Regions from separate parts of the Homo sapiens genome. Here region 1 is linked to region 2. Evidence: fine-mapped expression QTL. Tissue or cell type: cerebral cortex. Region 2 holds a variant in brackets; the other region holds the start of a gene. All regions are shown on one strand. Distances are from middle to middle.

Evidence for each region. PIP is the estimated chance that this variant, and not a neighbour inherited with it, causes the effect.
Region 1: ANGEL1 starts here. The variant in region 2 is fine-mapped to the expression of ANGEL1 in cerebral cortex (GTEx, PIP 0.93).

What each region holds. Positions count from the first base shown.
Region 1 is chr14:76,808,917-76,816,444 of GRCh38, reverse strand. It overlaps ANGEL1 (angel homolog 1), which reads left to right and starts at 3,563. Exons shown (of 10, transcript NM_015305.4): 1 at 3,563-3,681; 2 at 6,802-7,386. The coding sequence starts at 3,618. RefSeq lists a silencer at 3,496-3,925 and enhancers at 3,374-3,947, 3,948-4,522.
Region 2 is chr14:75,940,512-75,948,528 of GRCh38, reverse strand. All of the region lies in intron 31 of TTLL5 (tubulin tyrosine ligase like 5), which reads right to left. Among named protein-coding and RNA genes, the nearest start is that of TGFB3, 37 kb to the left of the region's middle. The variant G/C (reference allele first, on the strand shown) is at 3,363.

The sequences.
Region 1 (7,528 bases), 870 kb before region 2:
GCTGAAGTTTCAAGGAATCGAGGAGTGGGCAGGAGGTCAAGGAAAGTCAAGGGTGAGGTTGGGGTAAACATTGATGACTGCCTGATAAATCTCTAATGAACACATGGATGCATGAATCAGTGAATAAGTGAGCAAATGAATGCATTAATTCAGACTAATCTGGCACATTCTGGGAATGCCTAGTCATAAATCTTGAGATTCCCAAAGAAAACACCAGGCTCAGAGAAGGCAGATTACTAGGAGTGTAGAGGCCTCAGGTTATCGTAAGAGTTGAAGATGAGCAAATCTTTTCAGCCTATCCTATCTGAGAAGCTGTTTGCACTCTCCAGAACAGCCCATGTTCAGTACGGTAGCTATTAGCTCCTTGCAGTATTCAGAACCTGAAATACGGCTAGTCCAAATTCAGATGTGATGTCCAAGTAAAATACACACTGGATTTTGAAGACTTAGTACAAAAAAAGAACATAAAATATCTCATCTTGAACTATTGATTACAAGTTAAAATACAAAATTTTTGGATCTATGGGGTAAAATAAAATATTATTAATTAATTTCACTTGCTTTATCAATTGATTTATTTTTACTTTTTACATGAGGCTACTAGAAAATTTTAAATTGCATATGTGGTTCACAACATATTTCTTTTGGGCAGCACTGTCCCAGGCGTTGGTCCGTAGCCTCTGTAATCCTGAAGAAAGCACTATGCCGCCCCAATATTTGCACATGTTCAACCAATAAGTTAATAAATGCAGCCACTCTGTTGGAATTCCACATATATTTGTTGTCATAAGTAAAATTTTAGCCCTCAAGGGCTTAAATTTCTTATAGACTGGAAATGTCCCTTTAAGAGAGCATCTTAAGTCTCTCAAAGTATTGCAAAACCTCCCACTTGCTCCATTACATAGGTTCTGCACCCTGGAAACCATGGTAGTGATGGATGCAGGTGCTCATACTTGTCTTCATTGTTAGCACAGCTGGAATGAATTGAGGGAATCGTCTCTCTTCTTGGGATATTTCTGAAACAATGAGGCTGGAGACTGTGCAGATTGCACTTGTAATTTTCCTCTGACTGGGGAAGCCTAAGGCTCCACTCCTTCGGCCAAGTCTCCTTGGAACCTGTAGTTATTGGCTTGCTTAGTAATACTCATTACAATTTGGAGGGCAGGAGCTCTATTTTAGCCAGAAATTGTGGAAGAAGATCCTACATCAGCCACGTCTGGAGCTGCTTTTCTGCCCAAATCCAAAAATGTAATAGTAAACATTGAGAGTTTATACTGGGTCAGGCACAATGAGGAAACTGAGGCCCCAAGAGCTTAGGCAACCTGAGAGATTCCACAGGTAAAAAGTGGCAGAGCCAGGATTTCAACTCAGTTGGTCTAACTCCAAAGCTTGTGATCCTTATATCACCCTACACCTTCCAACACGGCTGATTATGGACCAGGAAACAAAAAGAGGGAAGCCTCACTTAACTGGCCGCAGAAAAAGCCTCTGAAAGAACATAGATCAGTTGGGCTGACACATTGTGCCCACACTGTGCACTGAACAGCCCAGTTGAGACTGGATCCTTTAGCAGAGGTTCCCAAACCGTGCATTGGAATAAGTAAGTGTTTAAGGGCCTCATTCCAGGGCTGCTAAATCAGAACTCTGGGAGTAGGGCCTAGAAATTTGTATTTTGAAAGCATTTTCCCAGTGGAGATAAGGGAACCGTTACCCTTGATTAGGATCTGATTTGGAACTTGGACTTCTGGATAACTCATGGTACAAAATGGAAGGAGGGTACAAGGAGGGTTTTACTTAAGCTACATCAAAGGAGGGGGCCTGACCTCGGGAGCGCCTTTGGTAGATCCACCATTTGTGCACTAATTTCTAAGCAGCTTCCCAACCTTCAGATTGCTGGGCCTCTGTTTCATCTCAAAGGGATAAGTGCTGTTGCCTGAAGGCAGGCAGACATTGCCACCTCTAGAACTAAGGGTAAGTAGTGGGAAGGCCACAATACTAACTCTCTCCTTCTTCCTCCTATTAGCCTTTCAGTGTTATGATGTACCCAGCTGGTCCAGGATCTGGTGACTCCCCAGAAGGCTTCCCTGAACAACCAAGGCTCCAGCCACAAACTGGAAATCGTGCAACTCAGACACTGGGTACTGAAACTGGGTGCATTGTCCAGTCCCTCCTTCAGAGCCTGTTTGGGGTAGAAGATTGGGGGAGGGGGACTGGGGAAGAGAGACTCAAAGAGGTCGCAGGTGGCACAGAAGTGATGGCAGAACTGGCCTTCATTTAGTGACATATGCTTTGTTCAACCAGTCAGTAAAGGCTTATGTGGTGGCTAGTAGTGCTAGCGAATGCAGATTCGGCCGCTTGCAAAACCAACGAGCAAGGTCGTGGTATGGTAGAAGGAGACTGACTTTATTATAAACCAAAGCTAGCAGTGGGGAAAAACGATCCAGGCTTTTGCTTTAATGGAGCTGCTTCACATTTCCAAGCAAAATGCGAGGCTTTAAGAAGTTTTGGCATGGAGGGTATGCAAGGGGTGAGGCAGTGCAGGTCTTCATGACGAGTTCTGATGACTTGTCTTGAGTTACTGCCCATCTGGTGAATGGGCTGGCATCATCTCGGGCTGGGCTGAGTTATAAATTAACTGTAGCCTTGAATCAATCTCCTGGTGGAGATTTCCACAGATGCCTATATTGTTTCAAGATTTAGTCTCTGGAACTTTTAAGCGAACATACAATTAGATATGCTAACAGTGTGTATGGGGGGTGCTGGGGTGTCGGGGGGTGCCTAGTGGTTAACTGAACAAAAATAAAGAAATAGAAGTATATAACAAGAATATAACTTCCAAGCTGGGTACTTGGTTACAATAGGTGCTTGGATTGTATTAGAGATACCTCAAAGTGAGCAAACAACCAGCCAGAACTGGTCCCTGGCCTTGTGGAAGTTTCTCTCTTCTGTCTCTCTCCTCTCTCCCTTCTCTCTCTCCTCTCTTTGTCCTCTCTCCTTTCTTTCTTGACTTCCTTACCAATGGGAAACCCTGTTTTTCTAGATTAGGGAAAAGAAGGCCCGTTTAGAAAGTAGGGAAGGAGACAAAGTCTTACTTCCTGAAGCAAGGTAGGACTCAATTTGTGACCTAGAATCTGAGACAGGGAAGTAGAGGCAGGAAAACGGGGGAAATGGGGGAATAACTCGCTTCCTTTCTGGGTCGAGAAGGGCTAGAAGTCAAGGTTCAGTGGAGCCTTAGAGAAAGTCCAGCTCTTCATTTTACAGGTGAGGAAACTGAGGGGCGGAGAGGCTATAGTGTGGTAACAAGGTGGACACCTAGTCAGCTGCAGAAGTGGGAATAAACTGTGGCCTTTGAATAACACTATGGGGCCTCCAGTGAGGCGCTCAATTTTAATTCGGGACGCCTGGGTGGCAGCCGGGTGCTAGGGGTGGCTAGTTGCCATGGGAACCGGCTCCTCCCACTTCCTGCGTGCGCACCCGTAGACCTGCGCTCCCAATAAAGTTGTTGTTGAAGCGCGGCGGCGGCACCACGTGGGCCGGACCGGGCCGGGGGCGGGGCCGAGCTGAGGGAGGACCTGCTGGCTGCAGTGAGGAGCGGAGGCGGGCGCGGGCGGCCGGCCATGATCGCGTCGTGCTTGTGTTACCTGCTGCTGCCGGCCACGCGCCTCTTCCGCGCCCTCTCAGGTACCGGCCAGGCGTACCGACAGACAGGAGCCCGGCCAGGGCTCGCCTCTGCGGGGCTCCGCGGGCCTGGGGCGGCGTGCGGTTGGCCGGGCCTCACGACTACCGTGCCCCGGGCAGTGCCGAGGTGTAGGGAGGCGGTCCTGAGCCCCTGCCCCGCGGGCCCCTCCTGACCCCACGAGGCCTGGACCTGGCCGACGTCCCTCGTGGGCGGCCCCTCCTCCCGCCTGTTGTCAGATGGCGTCCGGCCGCGGTTAAGGTGGAGAGGAGCTGTGGACGGGCAGGGCCCTTTCCTGGCCCTGGGGGTGCAGAGAAATTGTGGGGTCGGCCAAGTCAGCACCCCGGCGGGTCGGGAAGGGGTAGTAGCTCGGACCTAGGCGAGTGCCCAAATTCTCAGCGGGCGAGGCGGGTCGGCTCTGGGAGGTTTATGGCCGAAGTACTGGACGCACCGATCTTCCCCAGGTTAACTTCACACTCGCCTTTCACTGCCACCTGGCAGCTCTCGCTCACCGGTGTCTTTGGTTGAAAAACGGACGTTCAATCAGAGACACATTTAGATCTCAGCTTTGGAGCATTCCTGCCCCCACTCCCGGCGGTTTAGAGGGAGATGTGCTGGGGTGGGGGCAATGCCCAGTCGATACCTCAAAGAGGGGGTGTTTATTTCGTTATTGTTTCATAATTTGTCTGCATTCTCTATTTCTGGGCTTTGAAATTACGGAGGGTTTTATGCGACCATCAGTTTCTGAGATCCCATGGAACTCGCAGACTTTTTGCCTTTAATTTATGGGACAGGACCAAGAAGTACTTAGGAATGAGGGCTCCAATTGTATATTCTGTGGTTTTCCTTTGTGGAACTTTACACAATTGGTACGCAATGTGTGTGTCATTGATAATATATATTTCATATAGAAATATTTTAAATTTTACTGTGTATCTGCCATTAGAATGCAAACTTCAGGAGCGCAGGGCCACGTCCATTTTGTTCGCTGTATCTCTGGTGTTAACACATTGCTTGGTATACAGTAGGCACTCAGTGAATTCAGGAATGTCTTGTGTGTCCATACTTCTGAGGAATGTGGGAAACTCCACAGAAGTAATTGTTTCCAGAGAACTAAACATATTCTTTTAACTATGTTGCTGTTTTTCCTGGAGCTCTTCTAATGCCTTAGTGATACAGTATACTAGTCCAGAGGTTTCCAGACCAGTAGAGTTCTAGGGATCTCAGAGGAGGGCCCCCCCCGCCCCCCCACCTACACATTACAGTAGTCCCACTTATATTTACTTGGCATATTTGGTTTCCAGATAAGATTTTTAAAAAACAAAAGCATTCTGCTGCTGAAAATCCACCACCACCACCACCAAAAGACATCTACCAAAATTGAAAGCTAGTAACTTCGTGCATATGAACCAAAGAACCTCTGCCATCTGGTATACACAGAGGATATTTCAAGGGGCAGATAATCAGGAAGTCCTTGAGGCTAAAGCTCAACGACCCAGCCCATACATAGGTTTAGAGCAGGGTTTCTCAATCTCAGCACTGTTGACGTTTTGGACCGGATCATTTGGTGTGGGTCTGTCCTGTGAATTGTTGGAAGTTCAGCAGCGTCTCTGTCCTCTAACCACTAGATGCCAGTAGCAATGCTGCAGTTGTGACAACAACAGTGTCTCTGAACGTTGCTAAATGTCTTCCGAGGGCAAAATCACCGTGGTTAAAACCATTGTTTAGAAGGACATAAATATACATAGACCCCAAACAAGATATTTGAACCGTCTTTCAATATTTGAGCCACTTTTAAGGTTTCTTCCCTTTAAAAAAAAATTGCCAATAAAATGAGTCTAGTGATTGAGGGCCAGCATCGTGCATGTTACTCGTCCTGTGCTGTAAATAAATGGTTGAGTGTGTGAGTGTAGGAGTTGTTTGCTCTCACCAAAATACTGTGCTCAGAGTTTGGGGGCTCTAATTTTAGAGTTTTTCCCACTTTCTTTCTTGCCTGTTGGCTGTCATTGGTGGCTGCAGTATCAGAGAGATGTCAGCTGTCTCTTACTGTCGATTGTTGGCACCTTGTAATTTATAGCCTCTGATGTGTTGTGGAATGGGAAAGCAGATAATGAAGTTTGTGAAGATTTTATTACAATAAGTAGCTTTGAGAAAAGGCTTAAGGGCCCTTGCTAAGATGTAAATTGTATAGATTTTTGAGACTGTCTACTTTAGGACTTTTTCTTTTGGAATACATTAATAGATTAGGGAATTTATACAGCTAGAAAAGCTCAGAGATTATCTAGTTCAAACTTGTCTCTATTTTTTTAAATTTAAAATTTATTTTTTTCTTTTCTTTTCTTTTTTTTTTTGAGATGAGGTCTCACTTTGTCTCCCAGGCGGGAGTGCAGAAGGGCAGTCATAGCTCACTGCAGCGTCAACCTGGGCTCAAGCAATCCTCTCATTTCAGCCTCCCAAGTAGCTAGGACCATGGGCATGTGCCACCGTACTTGGCTAATTTTTAATTTTTTGTAGAGATGAAGTTTCGTTATGTTGCCCAGGCTGGTCTCTAACTCCTGGCCTCAAGTGATCCTGCTGCCTCTGTCTCTGCCTCCCAAAGTGCTGGGAGCCACCACGCCTGGCCTCTTGTCCCCATTTTACAGTCAAGAGTAACTTCATCTGACTAGGGGCATTGTTCAAGGTCAGTTTTATTAATTTTGGTGCTAGATCATAACCCACAGTTCTGATTAACAGTCAGTTGCTGGTTGCAATGTAATGTGATTCTTAGAACCAAAGAGTTTGTTAATAGTAGTCTTAACTAAGTCATGTAAAAGGAGTGTGGGTATATGTGCCCATCTGTGTTCTAGATTATGTGAGACAGCTGTTCTTTCATGCACTGAATATTTATCAGATCCCTGCCATATAAATTAGTCAACACTTGTAAAGAACAGTGCCTGGCACATAGTGAATACTTTGCCCTGATGATGATGATGATGTTCAGGCATTAAGGTAGGCAGGCTCAGTGATGGTACAATGATGAGCAAGGTGGATATGGGTCTTGCTTTTATTGGGCTTATGTTTTAGCTGGGAGAATAGTGTGGGTTGGATGACAGTCTTATAACCTGGTATTTTGGCTTTCCTCCTAGATGCTTTCTTCACATGTCGAAAAAATGTCCTTCTGGCGAACAGCTCATCCCCCCAGGTAGAGGGCGACTTTGCCATGGCCCCTCGGGGCCCTGAGCAGGAGGAATGTGAGGGCCTGCTGCAGCAGTGGCGAGAAGAAGGGTTGAGCCAGGTGCTCTCAACTGCAAGTGAGGGGCCCCTTATAGATAAAGGACTAGCCCAGAGCAGCCTGGCACTTCTGATGGATAATCCTGGAGAAGAGAATGCTGCTTCAGAGGACAGGTGGTCCAGCAGGCAGCTGAGTGACCTTCGGGCTGCAGAGAACCTGGATGAGCCTTTCCCTGAGATGCTAGGAGAGGAGCCACTGCTGGAGGTGGAGGGGGTGGAGGGCTCCATGTGGGCAGCTATCCCCATGCAGTCGGAGCCCCAGTATGCAGACTGTGCTGCCCTCCCAGTGGGTGCCCTGGCCACAGAGCAGTGGGAAGAGGACCCAGCGGTGTTGGCCTGGAGCATAGCACCTGAGCCTGTGCCCCAGGAAGAGGCTTCCATCTGGCCCTTTGAGGGCCTGGGGCAGTTGCAGCCTCCCGCAGTGGAAATACCATATCATGGTGAGTCTGACAACTGGTTGAGTGAGCCAAGGGAACAGGGTGTCTCAGGTGTGGGCAGAGCCATTGCTAAAGAGAAGATTCTATGGTAGGGAGCTCTGCCACTGCATTCTATTTTTCTAAGAATCTTGGCATGTCAGATCTA
Region 2 (8,017 bases):
TTTTAATATTAAACAACATTTTAAAATTATGATTTTTTTTTTTAAGATAGGGTTTCACTCTTGTCACCCAGGCTGCAGTGCAATGGCGCGGTCTTGGCTCACTGCAACCTCCACCTCTCAGTTTCAAGCCATTCTCCTGCCTCAGCCTCCCGAGTAGCTAGGCTTACAGGTGCCCACTACCACACCCGGCTAATTTTTGTATTTTTAGTAGAGACAGGGTTTCAGCATGTTGGCCAGGCTGGTCTCGAACTCCTGACCTCAGGTGATCCACCCGTCTTGGCCTCCCAAAGCGCAGGGGTTACAGGTGTGAACCACTGTGCCCCGCCAATTATGATTTTTAAATTAGTTAACTCTTTCTTAATTTCCAAAAATATGAGGACTTTTCCAGTATCTTTTTGTTATTGCGTTATGGTCAAGGAATGTAGTGTTTGAAATGTGATTTAAGGCCTACTACGTAGTTTCTGCAACTCCCCCATAGAAGATTGCAAAGAATGTGCATTATGCAGTTATTTAGTGTGATGTTGTATACACGCCTATGAGATCAAGCCTGTTAATGATGTAGTTAAAATTTCGATTTTTTTTTTTTTTTGAGACAGGGTCTTGCTCTGTTGCCCAGGCTGGAGTGCAGTGGCATGAACACAGCTCACTGCAGCCTAAACCTCCTGGGCTCAAGCATGGGGATGCGCCAGCCTCCCATGTGGCTGGAACCACAGGCACACACCACGCCCAGCTAATTTTTCGATTTTTTTGGAGAGACGGTCTCACTTTGTTGCCCAGACTGGTCTCAAACTCCTGGGCTAGAGTGATACTCCTGCCTTAGCCTCCCAAAGTGCTGGGTTTATGGGTGTGAACCACTATGCACAGCCTCTTAAATGTTCTTATTATCAGAAACATTACTTATTATCAGACTGCTCAATCTAGCAATTACTGAGTTACATTAAAACCTTCCAATATAAAGCTAGATTTATCTATTTTTCTTATGGTTCTGTTAATTTTTTGCCCAATGTACTTTTCATAAATATGTATTTATTAAATGAAAAAAACATTAAATATACTAGTTAAAGTAAGTTGACGAGAAAAGGTTGAGCACTTTCTTGGTGAACCTTTAGCCATAATGTAGTGACCCTCTTTATTTCTTGTTATGCTTTTTTGCCTGAAAATCTATTTTGTCTGATAAATATAGCTACATCAGCTTTCGTTTGGTTGGTATTTCCCCAATATATCTTTTTCCAACCTTTTTCTTTGATCCTTTATATATGCCTATGTAAGATTTTCTTGTTTTAATAGCCTAAAAGTCTATTTTTTAAAAATCCAGGCTGACAATATAACTATTTCTGGTTGGCCATTTTCTCTTCCCTCCACTGTTCCCACCTTGTCCCTGCCTGATATAGCAGCCACAGCCATCCTGTGAAATCCTCTGCTCAGAATTCCTTGATGGCTACCACTACACTCAGAAGACAAGCGCCAAGTCCTCTCCTTGGCCCCCAGGGCCTGCATGATCTGGCCCCTTGTCATCTCTCAGCCTCATCTGTTCTCACTCTCCTCTGCTCTCTCGTGCAACATGACAGCTCCACTTGAATTTCCCAATCACAGCAGCCACATCCCTCCCTCCAGGCATGAGCTCCCGCTGTTCCCTCCACCTGGAGTTCCCTTCCATCCATATCTGCCAGCTTATTCCCCCTTCTTCAGTTCTCACCGCAAAGGCCACTTTCTCTACTTTATTTAGAATAGCGAACCTCCCCATTCTCTACCTTCTTTCACTGTGTTGTTGTTTTTTTTTTTCTCTCTAGAACATTTCCCACATTCTCATGTACGGTTTGTGTTACTTATTTGGTCTGTTGTTTGTCTCTCCTATTGGGGATTTTTGGCTGTTTTGCTCACTGCTCCACGGCTTGTGCCTAGTGCCTAGAATAGTGCTGAACACACAGAAGATGCTTGGTCCATATTTGTTGCATTCATGAATCAATCAGTCTTTGACCTTCACTGGAACATTGAGTCAACTCACATTTTGGAAAGGGCCAATACTTTTATTTGTTCGTACTGTTTTAAGCTGTGCTTTCTATTTGTTCTACCTCTTCCATGTTTCCTTTTCCTCCTTGTGGATTTATTCTCTATCTCATTCCACTTTCTCTCTGCTACTTTGGAAGTTTTCTATTTTTTTAAATACTTTATTCATTTAACAATTGTATATGTTAACTATATAAAGGTAAAATTCATCAATAACTTTACCTTTTCACTGTACAGTATGAACTTAAATGACTTTAATTTTGAACATCTGCTCTCCTTGAGTTACATGATATGATGGTTTGGACATTTTCATTTTCTTTTTAACCTCACAAGAACATTATCATCATTTTGTTGCTCATTATGTTGCCCCCAATTCCTCCTGCATTTCAGACCTTTCTTCTGGTATTATAATACCTTCCTCTGTCTGAAATACATTCTTTAGACTCCTTGGCAAAGGTCTACTAGTGACAAACTCTTTTGCGTGTTATGTGTTGGAAAATGTGTTTCATCCTCATTCATGAAAGATATTTTTGCTTAGAATACATTTATGGTTTGGTAATTATTTCCTTTCCTCAATGGCAACATTACACTGTATTTTTGTTTCCATCTTTGCTGCTGAGAAGTTAGCTGTCAATCAGACTGGAATTGCTCTGGTAATCCTTCCACTCCCTCCAGCTGCTTTAACATCTTTTGACCTTAGTGCTCTAAAGTATGATGTGTCTAGGTGTGGATTTCTTGTGATTCACTGCAATATGTGTATCTTTCACTAGTTGTGGAAAATTTTTAGCCATTATCTCTTCAAATGTTGTCCCATTTTTTCTTTCCAGAGCTCCAATTAGATATTTATTAGGCCTTCTCAAATGGCTTTCCACCTCTTTTTCTTTCTGTGCTGCATTCCCAATCATTTATTTTTCAATTTATTATTATTTTTTGGGCAGAAGGGAATGTTTATTAAAAAACTTTAGAAGGCCAAGTGCAGTGGCTTATGTCTGTAATCCCAGCACTTTGGGAGGCTGAGGCGGGCAGATCATGAGGTCAAGAGATCGAGATCATCCTGACCAACATGGTGACACCCCGTCTCTACTAAAAATATAAAAATCAGCCGAGCATGGTGGCACGCACCTGTAGTCCCAGCTACTCAGGAGGCTGAGGCAGGAGAATCACTTGAGCCTAGTGGGTGGAGGTTGCAGCGAGCCAAGATCGTGCCACTGTACTCCAGCCTGGGGACAGAGCAAGACTCCGTCTCAAAAAAAATTTTTTTTTATATATAATATATATTATAAAAAATACATATTATAAAATAATATATGTAATATATATTATATATCTATAAAAGCTTTAGAGCAGGAACAAAA[G/C]GAAGGAAAGTACACTTGGAAGAGGGCCAAGCAGGTGGCTTGAGAGATCAAGTATGAGGTTTGACCTTCTGACTTGGGGTTTTATATGCTGGCATACTTCTGGCGTCTTGCATCTCTTCTCCCCTGGTTTTTCCCTTGGAGTGGGCTGTCCACATATGCAGATGCAGTGGTCTGCTAGCACTTGGGAGATGAGCATGCACAGTGTGTTTACTGGAGTTGTACGCATGCTCACTTGAAGCGTTTTTCCCTTACCAGCCAAATGTCCCTAGGAGGTCATATGCCAGTTAAAGGCCGCCATTTTGCCTCTTAGTGCACATGCTCAAGCCCACTCCCCCAACTCCTGAGATCTTATCAGGAAGCTACTAATCACTAGTTTCAGGTTTTTCCTATCTATAAGGAGACTGCCTTTCCCTGGTGCTGGCTGCAACTGATTATTATTTTAGAGAGACAGTTTCAACAACTGCCTGATCATCACCTGATGGTCACCTGACATTCCTGGTTGTGGTGGGAAGGGGTAGGGCAGGAGCCCTCTCTTGCCCTGCTCATGTCTGACTACCTACTGTAACCTTTCCTGACTCAAGAGTCCAAGATCCCAATTCTTTGGGGAAAATGGATGAAGGTCAGTCTTCTGTAACTGCTTTCCACTGACAGGTGGTAGTTGGCTGTTCTGTGGGTTTTGGCCTGTTGCTAGCTGTCAGGGCAGGGAGGCTCCGTGGGTTGGTGAAAGTGGGATCCAGCCAGGCCCAAGGGAGACAGGGGCAAGATTGTGCCTCTGTTTGTTCCACTGATGGGCAGTCTAGGGGTCCTTTGTAGAAGGGTGACTCTTGAATATTGAGAGGATGGTGTCCCTCACTGAGGATCATCTGAAGCTTGATGGCAAGTAGGGAATGTATTCGAGTCACACAGCAAAGTATGTTACCGGCGGAAGGTATCCAAGTCACATGGCACCAAAATATGTTAGCGGCAGTGAATCTGTATCTGTACAGGTCTGCCGCAGCCTCAATTATTGCCTCCTCAGAAGAAAGAATTTGACTGAGGGGCATAAGGCAGAAGAAGAGACCAAGGCAAGTTTTAGAGCAGGAGGGAAAGTTTATCAAAAAGCTTCAGAGCAGGAAGGAAAGCACACTTAGAAGAGGGCTAAGCAGGCGACTCGAAAGACAAGTGCCCAGATCATTTCTTTAAATCCATCTTTGAGTTCATTAAAGCTCTCTTCAATGAACTGGGTCAAATCTGCAGGTAGGCCCATCCATGGATTTTTAAACTTTAATTATTATTATTTTCCAATTCCAAAAGAGTTACTTAGTTCTATTTCAAATCTGCTTGGTCATAATTTTAATCTCTTGGTTTACTCTCTCTTTTAATTTCTCTAAACATATGAGAAAAGTTATTTTGCACTATTTGGCAATTTCAATTATCTTAGTCTAACACTGTTATCTATTATTTTGCTGGCTTTGCTCATGGTGCCATGTTTCTTTATTTGTTTTGTGATTTTAAACTCTGATCTCACAAAACTTTACCTGTGGGAATTATTTGAGGTTTGGGTTGGAGGAGGATTCCTCCAGATAAAACATGCATTTGATTCTGCTAGGTGCCTTAGGACCACCTTAAACTCTCAGTCTGAAGTTTTTCAGGCTACCTCCAGAATGTGAATTCATGCCCAAGCTTACAAGGGGTCCAGCTTGTGGTTATAAATTACCAGGGGAGATTCCCCTTCTCCACTCCATTTAGCACCAAGTTTCCAGATAGCCAGTTATCTTTCAATGCCTGAGGGACTGAAGGGTGGACGAGAGGGAGGGCTTATTTCTAGTTGACTTACATATGGAGACTATAGCTGGCACTCTGGGGTCCCAGTCTAGAAGGGTCTCCTCTAGACTCTTCACCTTAAGATTTGCCTATTGTCCCTTACATCCTGCCATAATTCGGGTACAGAGTCACTTCAATCCTAACTCCTGCCTGGTGATCCAGTGACGGGGTCATAAGAGCAGGAGAGGTATACAGAACAACGATGTTACTGCATTTTTCCCTCACTGCCTCTATGACCACGACTACAGCCCAGCTCTTCCCCGACACCGCCTTTTTTTTGTGGGACTTTGAAATACCAGCCACTGTAGCTAACCCATCTTTATTTTTGCTTTAATGGCTTGGCCTGGAAATTCTGTCTTTTTTTGGCCAAATGTCTACAGATAATACTGTCTTTATACACTCACTTGGCATTTATGAAATAAATGAAGTTATGTCTTATTATGTTAGTCCTAAAGTCAACAAGCAACACAAACATAAAATATATTCAGAACTACCCTAAAAAGTCTTAAAGCACCTGTAAAATACATCATGCCAGTTCGGCAACTATCAGGGAGTCCAACAAACACACTTATACTTCCATCCTTCTGTTCTTTCGTTAGCACCCAACTAACATGACTGGCTTGTGTTTAGGCCATAGAGAATGCAAGTATTTTTAGACATTGTGATCAACATTTGCCAAGGTAAACTGCACTATGAGAATCACCTAGGAATGAAGAACCATTGAAGCCAAGAGCAGATTCACATGTCGTGCTCATTTGGAAGCATAAGTTACCTGAGAGGAATGGTGGAGAGACCCTCCTAAACGATCTAAATCATTGTTTCTTTTATCATTTGGAGGCACATGGGGAGGGACTTTGTCTTGCATATACTGCTTATTTTCACTGCTACACTCTTAAGTGCTGAGATCGCATCTTACAAATTTTCACATGACCCAGGGCACCCAGCATTTTGCCTTATAAATATTTACATGAGAGCTGCTTGGTAAATAGTTGATTGACTGATGATCAATAGCGCTGTTACCCTATGGGTGGCAAAAGACTTCCAACTAACAATACAAACTAGGCTTCTACAAACAACAAAAGGCCTGATGTGGTAAGCGGCAATCTGTACTTCCAGGCCAGTGCTTCTACCACTCATCAGCTGTCTGAAGGTTAAGGGATACACATTTTTTTTTTTTTTTTGAGACAGAGTCTTGCTCTGTAGCCCAGGATGGAGTGCAGTGGCATGATCTCAGCTCACTGCAAGCTCCGCCTCCCTGGTTCAAGCCATTCTCCTGCCTCAGCCTCCCAAGTAGCTGGGACTACAGGCACCAGCCACCACACACCTGGCTAGTTTTTTTGTATTTTTAGTAGAGATGGGTTTCACCATGTTAGCCAGGATGGTCTTGATCTCCTGACCTCGTGATCCGCCTGCCTCGGCTCCCAAAGTGCTGGGATTACAGGTGTGAGCCACCGCATTTTTATGAAATCCTATGACTCATAGCTTTTCCAGTTCAGAAAAAAAAAAAAAAAAAAAAAAAAGTTCATCATGAATTTTCTGCCAATAAAGAAGGCCCTAAGCCAGGCAGGTGTGGTGATACATACCTATAATCCCAGCTTAGGAGGCTGAGGAGGGAGAATCACTTGAGCTCAAGAGTTCAGGATTCAAGACCAGCCTGGGCAACACAGCAAGAACCTGTCTCAGAAAAAAAGAATACAGTAAAAAGAAAAAATTCCTATCTGGAAAATGGGACAAATAAAGAAGGCTCAAACCTCAAATGTTATGAACATATAACCAAAGTTATTTTTCTCCCTCCAAGGTCTGAAGTGAATAAGAAAAATAAAATTAAAAACTTAATTTAAAATATTACCTAAATGCAAAGACGTTTACCTCTTAAAGATTTGTCCCTAAGGCCTTTCCAACTGATCTGGGCAGCCCTGGTAGTATCTTCTGGCAACATTCTGGTTTGATAAGAAAGGAAGTGAATGAATCAATTTATTTATATCCTGAGTGACATTAGTAGAAACGGACAGCTGGGGTGTGTGGGCCAACCTGCTGCCCCTCACCTTCCTGGGCATAGCTCCAGTATGTTGGAATGAATAACACAGGCACAAGAACATCAGATCCATTTCATGAAACCTTGCCTGGGTTGTCACAAAGGCGCCGGGCACAGCTGCAAGGGGTTTGTTCAGAGCAAAGACAGCCCAAGGAACTCTGCAATGCAGCCACATGGGACATGGGAGCCGCTGACTACAGCAGCACCACCAAGCCCTCATGGCCTCCCAGAAATCCTTTTTAATTTCTCATGAGTAATGCAGGCATCTGGTTCAGTTCAGATGCTAAAACCAACAAGAGCTCAAGTGTCCATCTATGGGGGAAGATTTCCTTTCTACTCGCAAATGAGTGTTGAATAATTTTAATACAATGCTATTTTAAGGAATTCTACTATAAAGAATTATAGTCATTAATACAACAAGCCTAATTCTTCTAAGAAAAATGCACATAACTCATTTCTGAAGATATACTTAAGTCTCACAAACCTGTAAAAAACCATGTTCCCCCTATTCTGGATTATTTTATTATAATAAACCCATCAGATGGGCATGATAACATTTTATCACGGAATAGAGAGATATAAATCTCTGAAAGACTTTCAAATGTCATTCAGTGAAAAGTGTTTCTTTTTGTAACTACATTTAGATAGTAAGTATCCTAATGGAAGACTGATTAACATGTTTGACAGAGGTTTTTTGGCATAAGAATACTTAATAACCACCCTGTTATGAAAATTTAAAAATTTTAAGGCTGACTAAAATCAATGTTCTTGGGATCTAATTCTATGATGTATCTACCATGCTAGTTTCGAAGCATAA